Homo sapiens: one gene and its partners. The protein of the gene in region 5 interacts with the protein of the main gene of each other region in a pairwise test. Each region holds a gene or a part of one and is shown on either strand. Other genes may lie near its edges.

Region 1 (4,117 bases), on a different chromosome or scaffold from region 5:
CTCAGCTTCCCGAGTAGCTGGGACTACAGGCACGTGCCACCACACCCAGCTACTTTTTGTATTTTTAGTAGAGACGAGGTTTCACCATGTTGGCCAGGATGGTCTCCATCTCTTGACCTTGTGATCCGACCGCCTCGGCCTCCCAAAGTGCTGGGATTACAGTCGTGAGCCACCGTACCTGGCCCCCACCACTGCTATTGAAGAGGAGATTAGCTGAGTACTCGAGTCAGACAGATGTGCAGTCAGATCTGGCTCATCTTACTATCTTCTTACTTGGCCTTGAGCAAGTCAAACCAGCCCCAGAAGTCTTAACAATAAATTGGGAAACAGAAAGCCTGCTACTGTGTGGTTTGAGGATTCAGTAGTACCTAGATAGCCCTCATTAATAACTATGGTTGCCGTCACCCATTCCCCTTCCCAGGAAGTGAATTTTTCAGCTGCCAGAACTGTGAGGCTGTGGCAGGGTGCTCATCGGGGCTGGACTCCTTGGTTCCTGGGGACGAAGACAAACCCTATAAGTGTCAGCTGTGCCGGTCTTCGTTCCGCTACAAGGGCAACCTTGCCAGTCATCGTACAGTGCACACAGGTAGGGGAAGAGAGGGCCCTGGCCTTCAAGCCCACAGCTGTCCTAGGGCAAAGTCCCTGATCTCCCATGTTCTCTGCCTCCAGGGGAAAAGCCTTACCACTGCTCAATCTGCGGAGCCCGTTTTAACCGGCCAGCAAACCTGAAAACGCACAGCCGCATCCATTCGGGAGAGAAGCCGTATAAGTGTGAGACGTGCGGCTCGCGCTTTGTACAGGTACGGAGCCAGCCTCCAAGTGGCTTCCAAGGCAAACCTGCAAGAGGTGGGGTGGGCCAATAGGGAGGGTTCTGTTCCTCCCAGAGGCAGGACTTGAAGTCTCCTCCCTCCCAGGTGGCACATCTGCGGGCGCACGTGCTGATCCACACCGGGGAGAAGCCCTACCCTTGCCCTACCTGCGGAACCCGCTTCCGCCACCTGCAGACCCTCAAGAGCCACGTTCGCATCCACACCGGAGAGAAGCCTTACCACGTGGGTACCCAACCTGGCCTGCCCACTGCCTTAGAATTACCTCTCCTTTGCCTAGGGGTGGGCTCTGAGAGGTGCGGGCCTGGCTGTCCCTAGATCTCTTAGAAATGAGCGGTGGCCGGAAGAGTCCAAGCAAATAAGGGGTGGAGGCTGGGAGTCAGGATGGGCAGGTATAGAAGTGATGCTCCTGGGCTGAGCACTGTTTTCTCAGAGAGGAGCTGAGAAGTGGGAAAACCTTTGCTAAATAAGGCGGGGCCTATCCCCTCAGCCACCCCTGAGGATTTGGGAGGATGTGAGAGTCAAAGAGCTGATCTTCCGCTGGATAGTTCCCACCTGGGAGAGCTGGACGGCCGCCCGGCTCAACACCTAAAAGGTGATTGTGGATGGGGCAGGGCCTGACTTGGCTGTCCTCCCACAGTGCGACCCCTGTGGCCTGCATTTCCGGCACAAGAGTCAACTGCGGCTGCATCTGCGCCAGAAACACGGAGCTGCTACCAACACCAAAGTGCACTACCACATTCTCGGGGGGCCCTAGCTGAGCGCAGGCCCAGGCCCCACTTGCTTCCTGCGGGTGGGAAAGCTGCAGGCCCAGGCCTTGCTTCCCTATCAGGCTTGGGCATAGGGGTGTGCCAGGCCACTTTGGTATCAGAAATTGCCACCCTCTTAATTTCTCACTGGGGAGAGCAGGGGTGGCAGATCCTGGCTAGATCTGCCTCTGTTTTGCTGGTCAAAACCTCTTCCCCACAAGCCAGATTGTTTCTGAGGAGAGAGCTAGCTAGGGGCTGGGAAAGGGGAGAGATTGGAGTCCTGGTCTCCCTAAGGGAATAGCCCTCCACCTGTGGCCCCCATTGCATTCAGTTTATCTGTAAATATAATTTATTGAGGCCTTTGGGTGGCACCGGGGCCTTCATTCGATTGCATTTCCCACTCCCCTCTTCCACAAGTGTGATTAAAAGTGACCAGAAACACAGAAGGTGAGATCACAGCTCTGCTGGCAGAGATTACTAGCCCTTGGCTCTCTCGTTTGGCTTGGGTATTTTATATTATTTCTGTCATAACTTTTATCTTTAGAATTGTTCTTTCTCCTGTTTGTTTGCTTGTTAGTTTGTTTAAAATGGAAAAAGGGGTTCTCTGTGTTCTGCCCCTGTAATTCTAGGTCTGGAACCTTTATTTGTTCTAGGGCAGCTCTGGGAACATGCGGGATTGTGGAATTGGGTCAGGAACCCTCTCTGGTATTCTGGATGTTGTAGGTTCTCTAGCAGTCTAGAAATGGATACAGACATTTCTCTGTTCTTCAAGGGTGATAGGAACCATTATGTTGAGCCCAAAATGGAAGTAATAATAAATGCCTCCTGGAGGCTGTGGGTGTGGGGGATTCTGTATCTGGATTCCGTATCACTCCAAGTGGAGGCTGGCAGGTTTTTCTGCAAGATGGTCCAGAATCTAAAATGTCCCATTAATCTGGTCACTTGGGTTTGGCTCTGCTGTATCCATCTATAGTGGTAGAGACCCACCAGGGCTCAAGTGGAGTCCATCATCCTCCCACGGGGGCCTGTTCTTAGCACTGAGTTGATCGCTCCATGGGGGAGAGATCAGACATTCCTTATCAGAGATGATGTGACCTTTTCTGACTCTGCCCAGTCTCTATGAATGTTATGGCCTAGGGAAGAATCATGAAACTCTTTAGCTTGATTAGATGGTAAACAGTGTTAACCCATCCTTTACTACAGAGGCATATGGGTTTGAATGTTACCTGGGGTTCTCTCTATTGAGTTGAGCCCCTTCTTCCTTTAGTGGGTTTTGGACATCTTCTGGCAAGTGTCCAGATGCCAGAACCTTCTTTTCCTCTAGAAGGGATGGTGCTTGGTAACCTTACCTTTTAAAAGCTGGGTCTGTGACCTGGTCTTCCCATCCCTGCATTCCTGTCTGGAACCAGTGAATGCATTAGAACCTTCCATAGGAAAAGAAAAGGGGCTGAGTTCCATTCTGGGTTTGCTGTAGTTTGGTTGGGATTATTGTTGGCATTACAGATGTAAAAGATTGACTAGCCCATAGGCCAAAGGCCTGTTCTAGTTGACCAAGTTTCAAGTAGGATTAAGAGGTTGGTTGAGGGGTGCAGTTTCTGGTGTAGGCCAGGTAGGTAGAAAGTGAGGAACAGGGTTGCCTCTTGGCTGGGTGGAGTCTCTGAAATGTTAGAAGAAGCGCTGAAGCCTTGATTGATAGTTCTGCCCCTTGTTGCCCTGGGGCTTATCTGATTATGGGACGAGGGTAGAAAGTAAGAAGCACTTTTGAATTTGTGGGGTAGAACTTCAACAATAAGTCAGTTCTAGTGGCTGTCGCCTGGGGACTAGTGAGAAAGCTACTCTTCTCCCTCTTCCCTCTTTCTCCCCATGGCCCCACTGCAGAATTAAAGAAGGAAGAAGGGAAGGCGGAGGAGTCTATAAGAAGGAATCATGATTTCTATTTAGCAGATTGGATGGGCAGGTGGAGAATGCCTGGGGGTAGAAATGTTAGATCTTGCAACATCAGATCCTTGGAATAAAGAAGCCTCTCTGTGCTGCCTGCTGTGTCCTGGGTTCTTGCCTTGGGGGACTCGGGGAGCGAGGAAGAGAGCTCTTCCTCCTGGATAACATCTTGGATTCTGTACCATTCCACTGTCCCTTCCCACCAGACATTTTAAATGGTCCTCGTTGTCCCCTTCCCTGCCCTTGCCTTCCTGCTCATTGTGTAGGAACCAGTGACTTCATGAAGTTTCTCCGGAGCCACCTGCATCCTGCTGCTCTGAAGTCACTTCCTGCCTGAGGTGTGGAGGCTGCAGGGAGAAACCAGGAAGCCACTAATAATATCAAGAGGCCGGGGCGTGCATCTGTGCTGGAGATCTTAATGCTGGCGACATGCCTCCATCACCAAGGAAGATGGATAAGAGTTGGGTCCCGTAAAGACCACAGGGGCTGGAGGTGGCACTGAGAAGACTGAGTTAGAACTAACGGGCCAGCCCACCCTCCCCCAGCAAGGGTATCTTGAATCTATCCAGGGTCCAGTGCATGCATCTCTCCCACCCTTTCCCC
Region 2 (3,500 bases), about 62 Mb from region 5:
AAGTTAACCATTAAAAAGTCCTGGGCTTGCACAAAGGTTACTTTCTGAATATAAGTAGTATTTAGCAACCATAAATCAGTATATTACTTCCCAGTCAGAAGGACCCAGGAGATGTAAGGGGCCTCAGAATTACTATGAGTCCTCAAATTCAACAACATGTATGTTTCTTGTTGATTTTGAGGTGCAATTTGAATATTCAGCTGTTGATTTCTGCAATGGCTGAATGTTGAAACTACACCTACCATTCTATTGAATATATCAAATGTTATAAGCAGAATGTACACACAAACTTATCCACATGCATGTTCATCACAGAGCTGTTCTAATAGCAAAAAACGAAAAACAAACTCATGTTCCATGTCAGGAAAGGGGTTAAATTAATTACAATTCATATATACCACGGATATCACATCCATTTAAAATGAGGTTGAGGAGGACAGAAAATATAGGAAAGTGTTTTCACAATATAGTTCGTGAAAACATGAGACAAAGTATATACAAAATAATGTCATTTCTGTTAAAAAAAAAAGTTTGCACAGAAAAAAACAAGATTGTACACCAAAATTTCAAGTTAATTTCTGTAGGTGGTAAAATTATAACTGATTTTATTTTCTTCTTAGTGCATTTCTTTGTCTTGCAATTTTTCTACCATAAAGGCAGAGGTTTACAGTCCCTTATCAACAATTCAGAAATCCAAAAAGCTCTGAAAATATATTTTCATAAGTTAGCAGCAGTCATTTAGCTGCAAAACCTGACCTACGCTGATATGAAGCGGCTTCATATTTATCCCATTTAGTCAATATTTACAGGTTTTGCTGTAGAAATACAATGTTTCCAGGGTGCTGCCACAGTCCCACTAGGGACTCAATATACAATATTGAGTCAGCACCCTGAAAACATATCTGGCCCCAAGGTTTCAAACAAAGGATTGTGGACCTGGATTGCTTTGTAACTTTGCCACCATTGCCAATTTTCAGGCTTTTTAAAACTATGGGACTCTTCATAGTTTAAAAGGTTGGGAGCTTCTGCTGTGAATTATTATAAATGTTAAAATGGCAACATCAATAAAAGATATGTCCTTAACAGGGTCCTCACTCTGATTCATCAAGGGTGGCAAGCACCTGGCTCCCATTAGATGATTCTAGCAGCTGAGGGTTACCAAACCCTTGCCATGTGCCAGGCATTATATGCCTTACATCCTTTAGCTCATTTAATGCTGCTTTAGAAGATAGGCACCATCCCAGGCCCATTATATATATGAAGACACAGAGGCGCAGAAAAGTGACTTAATTTGCCTAAGTCACAAGGCAGAGTTGGGTCAGAACCTGATCCTTAGCCACCATAGTATGTCCTCACCACTTAAGTAGGCCAGGAGGCAGTTCTGCTTCCTGGATCAGTGGTAATAATATCACAAACAGATACAACTATCTTGTTTCAAAGCAGAGACAACTGACTTGTTTTAAAAACTCTTTTTTGATTTGTAAACTAAACAAACTTGATCTACAAATTACTGAGAAAGGATAAATATGAAGACATACCATATAATTTCCAGTATTACTACCATTAACTCTAACCACACCAAAGTTATGTGAAGATGTTCTATGAATGTAACATATTATACGATATAATTTTCTCTACCACAGAAAATCTCCCAATAATCCTTTGGAAATCAGTGTGGGAAATATTTTCTGAGAGCTCTCCAAAAAAGAGACCAAGTTCCTACCCACAGGAGAGCCTGATTTTTCTAAGAACAAACTCTCCACTGTCTACTTCTGGGGTTTCCTTAGTGTTTCTGGGCTAAAAACCCAGTAATTTACTTTCCCTATGAAAGACTAGGGCAGAAATAGCCTGGACTTCCTTTTGCAAACCAGAATTCACAGCTGTTTGGGGTGAACAATCCAATGTGGGAAAAAGAACCTCCTGAAGGGATTTTTCTGGCCAAGAATGTAACTTTCACTGGGACCATAACCTCCTATGACCCGTGAACATGCTGAAGCTACTAGATACAAGTCAAATTCTTCAGATCACAAGCTTGTTTCATTGTTTCCTGTCTCTAATTTTTGCAACTAAGAAAGTAAAAACTGAACTTCAATTGGAGGATGCAGGAAAAAGGGAGACCACTGACTTTAAATCTTAAACTTTGTAGTAAATTTTCTTTTCACTGCAGCCTCAACCTTCCACCTTCTGGGCTCTAGCAATTCTCCCACCTTTGCGTCTCTGCCTCCTGAGTAGCTGGGGCCACAGGTGCATGCCATCACACTCAGCTAATTTTTTATTTTTATTTTTTTTGAGATGGAGTTTCGCTCTTTTTTGCCCAGGCTGGAGTGCAATGGCACGATCTTGGCTCACTACAACCTCTGCCTCCCAGGTTCAAGCAATTCTCCTACCTCAGCCTCCCAAGTAGCTGGGATTACAGATGCAGGCCACCACACCCAGCTGATTTTGTATTTTTAATAGAGATGGGGTTTTACCATATTGGCCAGGCTGGTCTCTAACTCCTGACCTCAGGTGATCCACCCGCCTCAGCCTCCCAAAGTGCCGGGATTACAGGCGTGAGCCACTGCGCCTGGCCTAGTTTTTTTATTTTTTGTAGAAACGAGGTCTTGCCATGTTGCCCAGGCTGGGTAAATTATCTTTAATTCTAAGTAAATGCCTTACTCAGTTTAAGATTAGGCACCTTCTAGATTTTTACATATAAAGTAACTACCACAAAAGTCATTTCCAAGCATGTTACCTTTTTTTGTTTCCTTTTGTTTTTTAACATGGGAACCACACTCTGCTTTAGAGAAAGCAAAAATGTAAGTACAGCAATTCCAAAATGCAGGAACAGGGCTGCCCTCCCAACAAAATCACACTTAAAGGGAGTATTTTAAGACATTCTTGGCTGGGCGTGGGGGCTCACACCTGTAGTAATTCCAGCACTTTGGGAGGCCGAGGCAGGCAGATCACTTGAAGTCAGGAGTTCGAGACTAGCCTGGCCAACATAGTGAAACCCCTGTCTCTACTAAAATACAAATATTCGCCAGGTGCAGTGGTGCATGCCTGTAATCACAGCTACTCAGGAGGCTGAGGCACAAGAATTACTTGAACCTGAGAGGCAGAGGTTGCAGTGAGCTGAGATTGCACCACTGTACTCCAGTCTGGATGAAGGAGTGAGACACTGTCTCTGAAAAAAAAAAGAAAAAAAAAAAAGGCCAGGCACGGTGGCTAACGCCTGTAATCCTAGCACTTCCGGAGGCTGAGGGTAGACTGCCTGAGCTCAGGAGTTCGAGACCAGCCTGGGCAACACAGTGAAATCCCGTCCCTACTAAAATACGTGCGCCTGTAATCCCAGCTACTCGGGAGGCTGAGACAGGAGAATCGCTTGAACCCGGGAGGTGGAGGCTGCAATGAGTCGAGATCGTGCCATCGCACTCCAGCCTGGGCGAGAGAGAGAGACACTGTCTCAGAAAAAAAAAAAAAAAAAAAAAAAAAGAAAGACATTCTTGAAAAACTATTTT
Region 3 (3,522 bases), on a different chromosome or scaffold from region 5:
GATAAAAACACTCGCCAGGCACGGTGGCTCATGCCTGTAATCCTAGCACTTTGGAAGGCCAAGGCGGGAGGATCGCTTGAGCTCAGGAATTCCAGACCAGCCTGGCTAACACAGCGAAACTCCACCTCTACAAAAAATACAAAAATCAGCCAGGCATGTGGTTGAGGTGAGAGGATTGTTTGAGCCTGGGAGGTGGAGGCTGCAGTGAGCCAAGGTCAAGATCAGGACAGCATGAGACACTCCCCCAAAAGAAAAAAAAAAAAAAGAAAGAAAAACACTCAACACACTAGGAATACGAGGAACTTACTTAACATAATAGAGTCCATATATAAAAAGCCGAAAGGTAACATCATACTCAATATTGAAAGAATGAAGGCTTTTCCTTTATAATTAGGGGGGAAAAGCCCACTTGGATTCTTTCTTTCTTTCTTTTTTTTTTTTTAATTGAGCTCTTCCGGGATCCAGGTCTTTCTTGACTCTCTGGTCTTATATCATTTAAATGCAGTGGTACCCACTTGTGCTTATTAACTCTCTTTCATTGATTACTGACTGGGTGCACATCCATTATTTCGATTCAGAATCCCTCCCTTGGTATCCAGGGAGGACACGTTCCAGGCTCCTCTGTGTGGTGTTATGATACACATATACCTTGGTTTTTGTCCACAGTTCCTGGCTCATAACTCCCATAGCCCTTGCTACAGTCTTTGGGTATAATGTTGGGTTAGACCTTCTCTGCAGACCTTAAGAAAAATAACCTCTCCAACCTTCTCCTCCTCTTCTTTCACCTGCCCTAAGGCAGGACTCTAACTTTCCCCCTACCTTTCTGATTGCGGGTCTTAAGACCTCCCCAGAGAGGTTCCTGCTGTATACCCTGGGGGAAGGAATGCTGATGTCACAAAGCTTCCATGAAAACCCAAGAGGACTGGGTTCCAAGAGCTTCAGGATGTCTGAACACATGGCGGCTTCCTGGAGAGTGGCACGCCCAGGGAGGGCTTGGAAGCTCCACAGTCCTTCCCCCATACCTGTCCCACATGTCTCTTCATCTGTACCCTTGCAATATCCTTCATAATAAACCGGTAAACCTGAGTGTTTCTGTGACTTCTGTGAGCTGCTCTAGCAAACTAATTGGGCCCAAAGATGGGATTGTGGAAACCTCAACTGGAAGCCAGTTGGTCAGAAGTTTGGAGACCCAGACTTGCAACTGGTGGGAAGGGGGGCAAGTCTTGGAGACTGAGCCCTAAACCTGTGGGACCTGGCCCTATCTCCAGATACAGTGTTGGAAGTGAGTTGGAGGACACCCAGCTGCTGTCTGCTGCTTGGTGTATGGGGAAAACCCCCCACACCTTTGGTCAGAGAAGTCTTCTTCTGTGTTGATAATTGTCGTGGTGGTGTGAGAGCAGAGGAAAAACATGGTTTGCGAGTTTTGTGCTAAAAAACCCTGAGATACCAAAATGTGTGATGCTCAAGTCCCTTACTATTGGCCTTCATATCCATGGTTTCTATATCTGCAGGTATAGAAAGCCCAGAAAGACCAGGCCATGGTTAGAAGCACAGAATTGTCAGCACCAACCACCATCCTCCAGGAAGGGTACAGGGGCTGGAGACTGAGTTAATACCAATCATGCCTAAGTAATGAAGCCTCCATAAAAGTTCCTGAGAGCTTCCACATGCTGAACACGTGCGGTGGGCCTCAAGGGCGGCACACCCAGTGAATCTTCCCATGTGCCTCGCCTTGTGAATCTCCTCATCTGGCTGTCCATCTGTATCCTTGGAAACATCCTTCCTCATGAACCAATAAACATAACGAAGTGTTTCACTGAGTTCTGTAAGCCACCCTAGCAAAGTAACCAAACAGAAGAAGGGGGTCGAGGGAACCCTGACTTGTGGCTGGTTGGTCAGATGGAAAGGTGACAACCCGCTACTGGCAATTGGTGGCGGACAGGCTTGGGAACTCAACCCTTAGCCTGTGGGACGCGACTCTAACTCAGGTAGATAGTGTCACCAATGAATTGCAGGAAACCCCAAAACTGGTTGCTGGTGGGGAGAAATCTCCACACATTTTGGTGACCAGAAATGAAGCATTCTGTGCCAAGTAGCATGTGAGAGTAGGAAAATCACTGACTTTTTCCCACCTCAAACAGAACTGAACAGGCAAAGAGGGCTTGAAACAGCTCCATGCAGTTTCCAGGACCCAGATGCAAAAGACAGCAGCCTGTGTTTTCCCATCTCCCCATCAGGTCTTCCCAGTACAGGAAATGGGCAGATCATGAATAGGTCAAGGAGGCAGGTCTATGCAGACCTCAGCTCTGATGTATAAGGACAGAGAACTGAGCATCAGATAAAATCCCATACAGGAAGAGACCACAGGGAAAAGGGACTCCTTTGAAGCAGCGCTCTCTGTGACCCTCAGAATCAAGGACTAAAGAGTTGACAGAAGCCACATGACAGGGTATTGTCCATCATGATAAAAGCCTTTGCTTTTGCCTCTGTTTGGGCTGCAGTAACACTGCAGGGCAAAAACATAAAACTATTACACATCTAAACGACAGCGTGGGCTGGGCGCGGTGGCTGACACCATAATCCCAGCACTTTCGGAGGCCAAGGCGGGCGGATCACGAGGTCAAGAGATTGAGACCATCCTGGCTAACAAGGTGAAACCTCGTCTGTACTAAAAATACAAAAATTAGCTGGGCGTGGTGGCGCACGCCTGTAATCCCAGCTACTTGGGAGGTTGAGGCAGGGGACTCACTTGTACCCGGGAGGCGGAGGTTGCAGTGAGCTGAGATCACGCCATTGCACTCCAGCCTGGAGACAGAGCAAGACTCCATCTCAAAATAAATAAATGAATAAATACATACATACATACATAAAGGACATGGTGACAGGTGGGGGTAAAGAAAGATTTCTCTTAAGAACTCACAGGTTTTAAACTCTTATTTCTCCACACAATTCTCCCACTTATAAACACGATTTAATAGTGTGGCTCTGGTAGGCAAGGGGCACATGCCTATAATCACATCACTTTGGGAGGCCAAAGCAGGAGGACTGTTGAAGCCCAGGAGTTCAAAGCTGCAGTGAGCTATGATGGCCAATGCACTCCAGTGTGGGGAACAGAGACTGTCTCAAAAAAAAAAAAAAAAGTGTGGCTTTCACTCTGTCCATCTGAGCTCTTACCTGTGTTGATATCTTTGATACCTTCCCACCTATCTGGATTTTTTGCTACTTTCATTTCATTCTCCACAGTCCAGGGCTCTGTCCTTTGCTTCATCATGGAGATAATACTCAGGTCAGGAAGACAGATTCCTGTTTATAAAAGAAAGAATCAAGATGTGCTGTGATGTCTCCAAAATCCAAGCCCTCTGTTTAGGCAGCAGAGATGATATTAAAAATTAATCCTTTAAAGCCAGTTAGAATGGCGATCATGAAAAAGTCAGCAAGCAACAGATGCTGGAGACACTGTGGAGAAACAGGAACACTTTTACACTGTTGGTGGGAGTGTAAATTAGTTCAACCATGTGGAAG
Region 4 (3,522 bases), on a different chromosome or scaffold from region 5:
AAAAGTCAGGGTTCTGGCATCGCGGGTTCCCCGTCACGATCTTGCGCTTCCGTAGCCAGCCTCCTAGCCAGGCCAGCTGGCAGTTGCAGTTGAAAGGGTTGGCCAGGAGATTCCTGGAAGAGGCAGGCCAGGCGGCCATGGAGACACTCTGCCCCTCTCAGAGGTCCCAGCAAACCCCTCCTGTACCACGGACACAGGGCCACATGGCCACATGGCACTGTCTCCCAGACCACCACCCATCACCAAGAGGACCGGCTCTGAGGACCGGAGGGAGACTTCGAAATGTGGAACCCACGTTTCAGCAAACCACGAAGACCCAGCACCCCCAGGGTGAGCTCTTTCAAAGTGGCTGGCCGAGACGGTTGGGACGGTTGCTCCAGAGCCCCCGCCCGCCTGTCCTGGAGGCCGGACTCACAGTGTGGAGAGGGACTGGAGGGTGTCGAAGGCTCCTGGGGATACGGTGGTGATCTGGTTGTCGTAGAGCGAGAGGAGCCGGACGTTGCGCAGGCCCGTGAAGCTGTCGTTGTGGATGCAGCTGATGCGGTTGTTCCGCAGCATTCTGGGGAGGAACGGGGGAGGGAGGAGGGGACCCTTGCTGCCCTGCCAGCCATCCACCTGGGCCACGCAGCTTCCGCCATCGTGGCTCGTTCACAGTTCTCCTCCATAGGCTGCGAGCCGCAGAGCCAGGAACACGCACCAGCCAGGCCCCGGCCAGGTGAGGCGAGTTTTACACACCTGTGCCCACTCCAGACCCGCCCCCGCCTCTGAGAAGCCTCGAGGCTCTGTCTCTCTCTCCCTGCCACTGCCCTGTCCCCCATGCTGGCCTTGCCTCCGTGCCCTGGGTGCCCAGAGTTCCTGCCCGTCTTTAGGCCATGCTCCACATCAGTGCCCAGGAGACTTCCTGAAACCTAATCCATCATGTCACTCTCCAGCTTAAAGTCCACTAACAGCCTCCAAACTGCCCACCGAGTCATGCTCGAACTCCTTACTGTGACCTGAGACCATGTCTACCCAGACCCGGACCATCTCAGCCCTGGCACCTGCCTGCCTCCCTAGAGATGGACCAGCCCTCAGCCTGCTACACCGCTGTGACAGTTTTCTAGAATACTCTTTTGCCTCATCTACATCTGGAAAAGCTGCTGTTCATCTTCAAAAACCCAGCCCAAGCCTGATGCAGTGGCTCATGCCTGTAAAAACAGCACTTTGGGAGGCCAAGGATTATTTGAAACCAGGGGTTTGAGACCAGCCTGGGCAACATAGCGAGACCTTGTCTCTACAAAAAAATTTAAAACTTAGCCAGGCATGGTGGTGTGCACTTGTAGTCCCAGCTGCTTGGGAGGCTGAGGTGGGAGGATCTCTTGAGCCCAGGAGTTCAAGGTTACAGTAAGCTATGATGGCACTACTGCACCCCAGCTGCCTGGGAGACAGAGTGAGACCCTGTCTCCCTAAACAACAACAACAATAACAACAAAAACCCAGCTCAATTTCACTTGCCAACCAAAAGTAAAAACAAAAACCAAGTCAACACAGGGTAGCCAACTCACAAAAGAAATTAAAATGGTTTATCAACATTCACAAAAATGTTCAATGTTACTACTAATCAAAGACACTTATGCAATATTGATTTTTTGCCTGCCAAATTAAAAAAGAATGAAAAATATAATAATAATAATAATGACATCCAGGATCTCTGAGAGTGTGAGTGACTGGGCACTTCCACACACTGGCAGGAGATGCCTTTATACCTCCCTGGAAGTGCATTTGGTGAGATGTAGCAAAATCCCCAAAATGACACTTTGTGTTTTCACCCGACTACTCCATCTTTAGGAATTCCTAACAAGAGTATTATCATGCATTATACGTGAACTTCACAATAAAGATATTGTCACAGAATGAATGTGATCCCCTCCAATCCCTATGTTGAAGTCCTAATCCCCAGTGTGATGGGATCAGGATGGGGGTTCTTTGGGAGGTAATGAGGTCATAAGGGTGGAGCCCTCATGAATGGAGTTAGTGCCCTTATCAAGGAGATCCCAGAGAGCTCTCTTGCCCTCTTTCTACCATGTGAGGACACAATGAGAAGTCAGAAGTCTGCAACCCAGAAGAGGGCCCTCGCCAGAACCCATCCATGCTGGCACCCTGGTCTCAGACTTCCAGCCTCCAGAACTTCTGTTGTCTATAAACCTCCAGTCTGTGGCTCTTTGTTATAGCAGCCTGAACCCACTAAGGCAGGTATCAATACAACATTGCTTATAAAAAAAAAAAAATAGAAACAGCCTACATTGCCAATAATTATATAATACCTAGTCATTCAAACTGATGCAGAGCACTTTTTTTGTATTAGGAATTAAATGTGGAATGGAAAAAAATTTTAATATGTAATGGTGCTCATATTAAGTTTAAGGAAAAAGCAGGTTACTAAATAAAATGTACGAGTCCATTAGAATATTTCTGTATGCGTGCATGCTTGTATGTATGTATGTGTGTATATGTATGTGTATGCAGGTTTAGAGATATGTAAAAGACTGGAAAGACAGTTGTTTATACCAACAATTAACAGTGGTCATTTCTGGATAGTGATGGGGTATGGGCCCTTCTCTTTTCCTCTGTCCTTATCTAAGTCTTCCTTGGAAAGAATGCAGCTGACTGGACAGCCCCCACACCCACATTTAAGGAATACTAGGTAAGCATAAAGAAAAATGAGGCAGCCTATAGGAACAGCCTGGAAAGAAGGCAATGCTGTATTCACAGGTGAAAACAGCAAGCTGCAAAACATAGTGCATAATAAAATTTGCTTTTTGTAAAATAAAGGAACAAAAATCCACAGGGAGTCCTGTCACACATTCATTTACTTGCTCAGAGACAACTCTACATCCTGCTGCAGATTTGGGACTTATACCTGGGCAAGTGGCTTCCTAGAGCTGTGGTGTCCAATATAGTAGCCACTAGCCACATGTAGCTATTTAGATTTAAATGCATTAAAATAAAATGAAATTCAAAATTCAGTCACTGAGTAGCACTAGCCACATTTCAACTGCTCCACAGCCACATGAAGTGACTGGTCTGGACAGCGTAGACTTGAAACATTTCCATCTCTGTGGGAGATCCGACAGACTGCCCTGTCTATGGGACACGATACACACCCTCAGGATCATCTGAAGAGCCAGCCCTCCTGGGGCAGATGGAGGGGGTGTCCTGCATCATGGAGGAGCAGATGACCCCAGGATCCCACTGAGCTCCAGATTCTGGTCAGCTCAGGCTGGGCTGTGGGTTATGGGATCCTAGCATCTCAGGGACAGTGCAGCATCCCTGCTCCCCTATCTACACCCACTGAATCACCTTGGCAAGGTCATCCAGCCCCTCCTGCCTGCAGCAGTGCCAGCCACTCCTGAACTCATGCTGTGCTCTTGCAGCCTGACCAGAGGGCAATGGGAAGGGACCCCTAGAAGGGTCCACATGTCTCCATCCCTTGAGGCCAACTGGGCATTGGCCCCATGCCCCAGGGTACAAGAGAACAGGTCT
Region 5 (3,522 bases):
GTAGCGTGAGGGAAAGTTGTTACTGAAACTGTTACCCATAGAGAGGAGACTCTCTGGGGTAATTAAGAGCTAGAGCCCAGGGCTTTCTTGGTGGGTCACTTAAGGCAGCTGGGAAAAAACAAATACATTCTCTGCTGTGTCTTCAAAATTTGCCTATATTCTTTTTATAAACTATAATAGAGGTTTTTCATGGAATGATTTTTAAAAATTTTAGGGTGCAATGTTCTATTACTCTTTGAGATGTAACTAAACAGACAAAAAATAACATCACCTAAGTAAAACAAAGGCAGAAAGAGGGAAGAAAGAGACAGAGAGAGAGAGAGAGAGAGAGAGAAAGAGAGAGGAAAATAATCGGAGGATGGAAGGAAGAAAAGAAGAAAGAAAGAAAGAAAGAAAGAATAAGCATGTCGGAGGAAGGGGTGGTAGGTGTGAGAGGTATCAATAGGGTTTAGTAAGAAATGAAGCTGATTTTACATCAGAAAACAGATTTTGAATCCTTTCAACTTCAATTCTTTATGCATTTATTTATACCCTTGTCATTCCAGAAATAACAAACACACCCAGAAGGTTACTGAGAGCTTGGAAACAGCAGGAAAATTCTAGCTGTGTAACTTTGGACAAATAGCTTAACCCCTTTAATCTTTAGCATTCTCAGCTACCTTAGAAGATCATGTGAGGATTAAGCATATGTTGTATTTCATAGTGCTAAGTGTAGTGGCTGGAGCTTGACTGCTGGTAACTTTTAAGATCCTTATATATCCAGTAGCAGAGAAATAGTGTTGAAAGTCAACACTAAATGAAAAGAGGCACTCCAACCCACTTGTTTGCTGTTCATAGGCAGTAATTCTGTAAATTGAGGTGAGACTTACCTTAGAATCAGATTCAATTGGTTTTTTGCATTCCTCGCAATAGTTAGAAAATACACGATCATAACATGTAACACAGTATGGACTGTCATCCTTTAGTACATATTTCTTCCCAAGAAGTGATGCTGTGCAGTATTGACAGTAAAAGTGAGCAGTTGTCATTTTGGTTTGATCCTATGAATGACAAAGTGATTAATGTATATAAAAGCAGAATTTTGTTTATAGGATAAATGATGAAACCTTAATATAATGTGAGTGAAGCATTTGAATGAACTTATATTTTCTTAAGCAAAAATCCCCCAATTTAGGAAAGTATGCTTATAGTCATGGTGACATTTGGAGTGATTTAGGAAAGATTACTCTCCCATCTTGGCAGTTCCCTGTATGTTTTGCTAAAAAAAAATGCATAAAACCTGCATCTAGATTATGAAAAACATCTTGTGTTTATCATAAGCTAATGTGGAATTCAATGAGAATATGGTATCTGTTGAAACAGGATGGTTTTACCTCAAGGATATAAACTGTTGCTAGGGCTTTTAATAACTATCATCACTTACTTTCTTGCTGGAAAATTCTAGAGGCAGATTTTGATGGAAATAACAGTCTTTTTTACTCAAATATAAATTAATAATCAGTACATTGTCATTTTCTAGTTCATTCTTTTACTCCTCAAGTCTTTACTGAATACCTAATAAGGGCTCTGCACATTTACCCTGAGGTCTTCGTGTACTACATCCCCTCCTTGGCTGTGGCTTCCACCATCCCAAATGTGCTGATGACTCCAAAATCTCTGTTTTCTGCTAGCTTTAGATATCTTCATTTAAATGTCCTTTACCAAACTGGCCAAATAAAACTCCTCAGCAGGTAGGATTCTCAGACCAAGTGCTAGGTCTTTGTGACTATTGTGAACAATTGCCCAGATGCAGAAGTGCAGATAAAATCATCAGTGGTAGAAAACAACAATGGGTTCCTTCAGGCTTTAGGGCCAAAGTAACATGTATAGAGCATAAATAATAGCAGCAGCTATTCCATTATAGCTATGGATAAAATAGCTAGAATTCATCTGCAAGGCAAAATGCATTCTGTAAGATGAATAAAAAAGCTGATATGAAACATAAAGCCAGTGATAGATAAGGACTCTGATTGTTTTGTAAATTTGGAAAGCCATTAAGAAACAATGCACAGCCTGTAGTCCCAGCTACTCGGGAGGCTGAGGCAGAAGAATGGCGTGAACCCGGGAGGCGGAGCTTGCAGTGAGCCGAGATTGTGCCACTGCACTCCAGCCTGGGCGACAGAGCCAGACTCCGTCTCAAAAAAAAAAAAAAAAAAAAAAAAAAAAAAAAAAAAAAGAAACAACGCATATAGATTTCCAGGTTTTAATTAGGCATTGAACATGAATTCTTTGTTGTTACAAAAAAAAATTAGCACTGCTTTTCCTTGGAAAATGAGATTTGTCATCTCAGGGTTTACTGGAATATATTAGGAGCTTTGAATATTTTCTAATTCTCCCCCCACATAATTTTTCTTTTAATTTTAGCAAAATCAGAGGAGCAATTAACGATAATACAACAGAGTTTTTGATACTAGTTTGTACTGACTACATTTGAACTCTTATTCTCATGCGTTTTGCCTTATTCTAGTGATGAAATTCCCAGCAGAGAGCCTTGCTGAATGCACATGATTATTAATTCTGTACATAGCAGTTTTGCTATATTGTTCTTCACTAACAAGTAGAGAAAAGGCAGAGGATTTGGAATATGTGGGTCTTTTCCCAGGAAAGAGATGAAATGCAGACTAGAAAGTTCGCAATGGAACATGGCCAAAATTATCTAAAAGGAACATTGAATTCTCCATTTGATTAATTCCACAGAAATGTTCCTTCCTAGTGAATACAAACACACTCAGAGGGTTACCGAAGGCTTGGAAACAGCAGGAAAATAGATCTAATTCCCTTGAAAGGTTTAAAAATAAAAGTTGTATTCACATTTACAGCGATCAAGTGTTTGTCACTTTATAGAAATAAAATATGTACCTTTAACTCTCTTCACTTAATATGGAAAACGTCGTTTTCATTAATATTTATTTTAGTTTTAGATGTGTATAATAGCATCATGAAACACGGCCCCTCAGGGGTTAGGAACTGCAGTCTACTGCCATTTTGTGAGGCTTTTAGTGTATTATAAAATGAATATATAAAACATATAAAACCACAAAAGGGATTACCAAATTGATAATATTTCAATTGTTTATTTTAAATGACACTTTAAACATGACAACATCAAAATACCTGTAACTTATTTAGTGATCAGATCAGAAGTCTAAATATAAGACAAGACGGTCCTTCTCCCACCCCAGTCCTAATTACATAACAGGCCTGGATCCACAGAAAATGCCTTACAATATAGACCATATTTCTTAATTTTTTGTTTTGTTTTGTTTTTTGAGACAGAGTCCTGCTCTATTGCCCAGGCTGGAGTGCTGTGGTGTGATCTCGGCTCACTGCAACCTCTACTTCCCGGGTTCAAGCCATTCTCCTGCCTCAGCCTCCTGAGTAGCTGGGACTACAGGCTCATGCCACCGTGCCTGGCTAATTTTTGTATTTTTAGTAGATATGGGATTTTACCGTGTTGGCCAGGATGGTCTCAATCTCCTGACC

What was found.
Region 1: the proteins of FHL5 (region 5) and BCL6B interact in a two-hybrid assay, tested with the Homo sapiens proteins (one large-scale study listed by BioGRID).
Region 2: the proteins of FHL5 (region 5) and ANKS1A interact in a two-hybrid assay, tested with the Homo sapiens proteins (one large-scale study listed by BioGRID).
Region 3: the proteins of FHL5 (region 5) and ZNF766 interact in binary tests that used the Homo sapiens proteins (3 or more experiments, as listed by UniProt).
Region 4: the proteins of FHL5 (region 5) and SLIT1 interact in binary tests that used the Homo sapiens proteins (3 or more experiments, as listed by UniProt).

The regions. Positions count from the first base shown.
Region 1 is NC_000017.11:7,026,036-7,030,152, forward strand, and holds the end of BCL6B (B-cell CLL/lymphoma 6 member B protein), read left to right. Parts: intron 1-421; coding exon 422-586; intron 587-669; coding exon 670-800; intron 801-914; coding exon 915-1,052; intron 1,053-1,467; coding exon 1,468-1,584; 3' UTR 1,585-3,609; downstream 3,610-4,117. UniProt on the Homo sapiens protein: Acts as a sequence-specific transcriptional repressor in association with BCL6. May function in a narrow stage or be related to some events in the early B-cell development.
Region 2 is NC_000006.12:34,895,755-34,899,254, reverse strand, and holds part of ANKS1A (ankyrin repeat and SAM domain-containing protein 1A), read right to left. Parts: intron 1-3,500. UniProt on the Homo sapiens protein: Regulator of different signaling pathways. Regulates EPHA8 receptor tyrosine kinase signaling to control cell migration and neurite retraction.
Region 3 is NC_000019.10:52,283,066-52,286,587, reverse strand, and holds part of ZNF766 (zinc finger protein 766), read right to left. Parts: intron 3,304-3,522; coding exon 3,175-3,303; intron 1-3,174. UniProt on the Homo sapiens protein: May be involved in transcriptional regulation.
Region 4 is NC_000010.11:97,042,955-97,046,476, forward strand, and holds part of SLIT1 (slit homolog 1 protein precursor), read right to left. Parts: intron 560-3,522; coding exon 416-559; intron 114-415; coding exon 1-113. UniProt on the Homo sapiens protein: Thought to act as molecular guidance cue in cellular migration, and function appears to be mediated by interaction with roundabout homolog receptors.
Region 5 is NC_000006.12:96,601,120-96,604,641, reverse strand, and holds part of FHL5 (four and a half LIM domains protein 5), read right to left. Parts: exon of another isoform or gene 3,490-3,522; intron 1,041-3,489; 5' UTR 1,029-1,040; coding exon 870-1,028; intron 1-869. UniProt on the Homo sapiens protein: May be involved in the regulation of spermatogenesis. Stimulates CREM transcriptional activity in a phosphorylation-independent manner.